2 separate regions of the Homo sapiens genome follow, and region 2 is linked to region 1. A link means that fine-mapping ties the variant in region 1 to the expression of a gene that starts in the linked region. Tissue or cell type: lung. Region 1 holds a variant in brackets; the other region holds the start of a gene. All regions are shown on one strand. Distances are between the middles of the regions.

Region 1 (2,684 bases):
CTTCAGCAGAAGTCACCAAACCTAATGATCATGAGAATCCCTGGGGTGTGAAGTAAGAGGTGTCCTCTACTCAACGAATTCTCTGACTCATCTATTAATTCAATTTTGACACTAACTGCCTGGAGTGAGTGTCAGGCAACACAGGGTTAAGGTCTCAGACCCACAAGACTGCTCTCACTTCAGGAGCCAGTCACAAGTATCAAGCCCCCAAAGTTACCAAATTGGCCACAAACTTGGGGGTTCTCATAGCTTCTCCTGGCCCAAGTTTTGATAATTTGTTAGAACAATTCACAGAACTCAGAAAAATGCTATATTTACTATTGAAGTTGATTATAAAGGATACAAATGAACAGCTAGGTGAAAAGGTACATAGCACAAGGTTTGGGAGGGTCCCAAGTGCAAGAGCCTTTGGGGATGTGTTTGCCAGTTTGGAAGCTCTCTGAGCCCCATCTTTTAGGGTGTTTTTTTTTTTAATGGAGATTCTGTTACAAGGGCATAATTGATTAAATTATTGGCCATTTGTAATTTGACTCAATTTCCAGCTCCACTCCCCTCCCGAGAGGTTCAAGAGTGGAACTGTGTAGCTCAAAGTTTCAACCCTCCACTCACATGGCTGATCCCCCTGGAACCCATGAGAAGCTATCTCAGGCCCACCCTGAGTCACCTCATTAGTATAGACTCAGATATGTTTGAAAAGAGCTTGTTATGAATAACGAGACATCCCTAACACTTCTAACAGTCAGAAAATTCCAAGGGTATTAGAAGCTCAGTGCCAGAAATGGGGGACAAGGACCAAATAAGCCTTTTTATTTTACTACAGAGGATTAAGTATGTAGATTCTTGGGACCTATTCCAACTGTATATTGAATTAAAATTCTTAGGAATAAGACTCAGACATCTCTTTTTTTCTTTCTTTTTTTTTTTTTTTCCTGCTGGTTTGTTGATCTTGGACATTCCTAGTTTCTAAAGCATCCCCAGTGATTCTGATGACCAGCTAGCTTTGAAAATTACTGATCATGAATCATTTGTGAGGAATTTGGAGAAACATCCCAGCATCACCTACATGCACAGATTATTCTAAACTAGACATTACTGGATTTTTCCACTTATGTTAAGATTCTTGGGCAGGATGAGTTTTTTCTACTTCTTGGTTAAGCCAACCTGAGGCCTCCAGGTTCTCTCCAGACCTGTGCTTCAACTTGGTGTTGGCCTGGGATCCTCAATATAGATGTCTCTGATGCCCCTGGGCCAGGCTAATGTGAGTTATTAATGTTGTTTGCCAACTATTTATAGCTCTTCTCTCTTCTGGGCACATGGCAGAATTGCACTTTCTTGCATCCTTTGATTAAGTGGGCCCATATACCTAGCTCTGGCCAATGATCAGAAGTGATGTGTGTCACTTCTGGGCCAGAACATTTTATTACCAGTGCAAGATCCTCCAGAATTCTCTGTCTTTCTATCTGCATGGTGGGAGTGGCAACTTTCTGAATGGCAGTTGCTCTGTTAGTATGAGTTCCTGAGTGACTGTGATGTACAGGACCTCCTTGCTGACTTACGATGGAC[G/A]TGTAGTATTAGCAATAAAGAGATTTTTATTGTTTGAAGCCACTGAGATTTGGGGGATGTTTGTTATGGTAGCATAGTCTAGTCTAGCCTGATTGATCTAGGCAGAGATTGTAGGCTTATCCCTCTGAAGCTTTCTCATTCTTTTGTGGCTTTGGGATTAGGATCATGCCTCTTAACCAATTTGGGTTTTTTTTTTTCTACTTCAAAGACTTATTAATGACAAAAGTCTCTCCTTATTAATGCAGGAATTAGCACTCTTTCACCCAGTAAACTTGTCAGGGGCCTGTCAGTATTCTCAGAACAACCAGTAACTGTTGAGAAAATGATGCTATCAGTTGAATGGTAGTGGCTTTTGTTTGCTTATCATGTGCAACTCATAATTATGAATGCCGGGACATAAACTAACAAAGAAAATTCTAGTTAACAGTGTTTAAAATACTTCATAGAGTATTGTCTTTTTAAAGGGCTGTCTTACAGACATGCTTCACAATTTTTCTGAAAAGCCAGTGGTGTGAGATAATCTGTCTGTCAGTGAAATTAGTGTCGTTTTCCTACCCTCAGCAAAGGTGATATTTATTAAAACTGTTTTTTAGAGATTATTTTTCTCTCTTACTTTAGTACAGAAGTCAAGACCCCTGGTAATCAAAGAGAGGAAGCACTGCGTTACCTCCTGAGTCAGCACATAGATGGGGCTGCGTCTATGCAGCTGTGACTTGTCATTGATTGCCATTCTTTTCCTTGGGGGAAGAACATAAACTTTTTTATGGCTGCTTTCTTTCATCTTTTATGCAAAAATAGCCACCAATGCTTCTTGTGTTGGTATCCTGGGTGATGAGTTTTCTTTATTCAGTTTATAGGTAATTATCTCCCTATTAGATCAATCATTTAATTTTATTTCTACATATAGAAGTTTTTACCTTTTGTACAAGTAATATGTGTATACATTCTGTTTATAAATAATTCAAGTACTGCAAATAATGCTGAAATCCCCGTTTGCCACTTCTCATTTTCCTCTCCAGGGTGAATTATATGTGTGTATCCCTTCGAATTTTTACATACATATTTACATGCACATGTGTACTTGTGAAATTATAATATTTTTATGTTTTAATTTTTCACAC
Region 2 (2,684 bases), 35 kb after region 1:
CTTGAGAGCATCTGAAAAAAAACTGATGTGGGAGCTCCACCCCAGACAATTACAGAAATATTTGTGAGGGTGGAGCTGGGGCCACCTATTGGTTTTTAAAGCTCCCCAGGTGTTTCTAATAGACACCCAGGGCTCCATAGTCTAATATACAATCAGTCCAATATACAGCATAATATACAGTCAGTGGTCTAGCAGCCAGTGCTTCCAAATTCTAATGCACATTTGAATCATCTAGGGATCTTGTTAAGCTGCAGATACTAATCCAGTGGTTCAAGTGCGGCCCGAGGGTTTTCATTTCCATAAAGCTTCCATGTGGTGTTAGTACTGCCAGTCTCTGGACCACACTTGGAGTAGCAGCTCCAGAAGGCACTCTGGGATTCTAGTCATCCACGTGGTCACTGGCTACTCTAGCCAGAGGCCTGGGAGTCACCTCTCTCCTTCATCCTCTCCTCATCTTCTCCCTTTCAAGCCCTTGGTCATCAGATCTTGTCAGTTCCATCACACTGCTTCTAGGAGCTCCTCTCCTTTCCTAACGGACTGGCACAATATTTTCCTCCCTGTTCCCCACCATCACTCACTGCCCTGGCTGTGCTCTTTGCTAGACCGCCTCCTGAAGGCTTTCTTATTCCGTCTTCCCTCTGTCCAAGCTTTTATTTTGATTCTGTAGAAGGCTCTTTCACTCCGTGACCCATCTCTTAAGAGACCACCGCAACCCGGGACCTGTTCTCTCCCTGCACTCTTCCCCTATGACGATTGTATAGGAACAGGGTGTCCCTCTAGTTGTTTCTGCGTTTCCAGCCCCCAGCTGAGCGCCCATCACTCTCAATAAAATACTTGTTGATTTTAACAAACAAAACCCCAACCCTGAAAGAGAAAGGCCAAACAGAGGCCTCAGCTGCATTTCTTCCGATAAAAATGAACATTCCTTCGAGATTATGCATCAGGCTTTAACTTCCCACTCAGAAAAAAAAAAAAAAAAAAGTTGATCAAATTTAACAAAGTAAGTGGTTATTTCCTGTCTGAGTTGAGTAGCTGAATACAGGCTCAAAGCAGGCGACGGGACAGGAATGAGAGGATGGATGCTGGCAGGGGCTTGGAGGTCTGCTTTCAAATCTGGGCTCGTCCCAGCAGGGGGAAAGCCTGGAGGACCGGGATAGGTTGGGGACTGCCGATGGGGAACCTCCCCGGTCCTGCGGACAGTCGGCAGCGCGGGGAGGCAGGCAGGAGTTGGGAGCGTGAACTAACTTGGCGCGGAGGGAGGTGCCGCACGCCGCAGCCGTTCAGGTTTCGCGTCTTGCGGGCGCCCACATGGGCCGCTGGCTTGCAGAAGGGGGCGGGGGAGAGGGAGGGCAGGTCCGGAGCCAAGCGGGTGGAGGAGGGGGGAGATCGAAGGAAATGAGACAACCTTTTCCTCCCACTGACTCGGGCTCCTGCAGCTTCTGCGGGGCTTGGCGCCGCCGTCCGTGAGCACCCAGGCCGGGACCCCACATCCCCAGGCCAGCCCTGACCCCGGCGGCCCCTCCGCCGGGATTCCTTTCCGAGGTACTGGTGCCGGCCCAAGACCCGGGCAGCGCTTTGTCGTGTCCGCCCCTCAGTGATCAGCTCCGGGTCCCCCTGCTCGGCCCCGCGCGCCCCAAGCGCAGTCCCCGGAAGTGCGCGCCGGGGCCCCAGCAAAGGTAAGAGGTGCCCGAGAGCGCTCCCTGAACTCTGGGGGCGCCCGGCATCCCCAGCGGGCTCCGGCTTCTCCGAAGCGCCCTCTTTTCGGAAACACCCAGAGCACTTCTGACCTGAAGCAGCTGCTTTGTTCCCAAGTCCCTGCCCAGGTGTTGTAGGCTGGGTCCCACAGGGAACTCTGCTTCCCAGCGCTTTCTTTTTTGCCTCCTCTTCCTCCCACTTTCCTGTTTCTTCTCTCGCCCCCCCTGCTTCTTTCTGGATAGAACAACTCTCAACTCCCTGCCTCTGCAGCCCAGCTTCGGAAAGCAGGTCGTTCCCAAATCTAGCGCTTCTCTCCTGTGCCTCTGGGAGCTGGGCTGAGCCTGACTGGCTTCTATCCCAAGCCTGCGCGGGGCGGACCTGCCAGAAATGTACGTGCTGCACCGTGGACTATTTACCTGGTTTGTTTCGGAGGCAGCCAACTCGCCGCGCGCATTTGGCGACCCCCAGGACCCCGAAAGCCGAGTGCATCAGGGAGTGAAAGGCTGTTGGCGCCCCCTAAAGTCCCAGTGGGACGCTTTGCTTTTGGAGAGGGGCGCGCAGACAGTCCACGCTGCTCTATCTGGGAGGTCTGCGTGGGGGTCCCCACCCCTACTATTGAGGGGTAAGGGGAGGTGTTGGCACGCAGTACGGAGCGCGTTGGGACATGGAGGAAATGAGGATGTCCTGGAAGGAGAGGAGTGCCAACCACATCGTGCTGGCTTGCCATGTTGTTCTTATTAACTGCCTGAGTTCTCATAACAAGCCTGTGTGTAGGGACTCTTACCCCTATTTTACAAACGGGCAAAATGAGATGGGGCCACACAGCTAGCTAGGAAAGGGCCCAGCCAGGATTTGGGTCCTAGCTGGTCTATACCACACATACACTTCAAGTCCAGCCCTACAGAAGATTCTTCTTTTTAGTCTGAGCAAGAACCGTCCCCCCAACTCCCCCGCCCCCCCCCCACCTCCTTTCTCATAGTACAAGGGAC

What was found. PIP is the estimated chance that this variant, and not a neighbour inherited with it, causes the effect.
Region 2: EVA1A starts here. The variant in region 1 is fine-mapped to the expression of EVA1A in lung (TOPMed, PIP 0.95).

The regions. Positions count from the first base shown.
Region 1 is chr2:75,594,308-75,596,991 of GRCh38, reverse strand. No RefSeq gene overlaps it. Among named protein-coding and RNA genes, the nearest start is that of EVA1A, 35 kb to the right of the region's middle. The variant G/A (reference allele first, on the strand shown) is at 1,564.
Region 2 is chr2:75,559,672-75,562,355 of GRCh38, reverse strand. It overlaps EVA1A (eva-1 homolog A, regulator of programmed cell death), which reads left to right and starts at 1,417. Exons shown (of 4, transcript NM_001135032.2): 1 at 1,417-1,676. RefSeq lists a silencer at 1,408-1,467.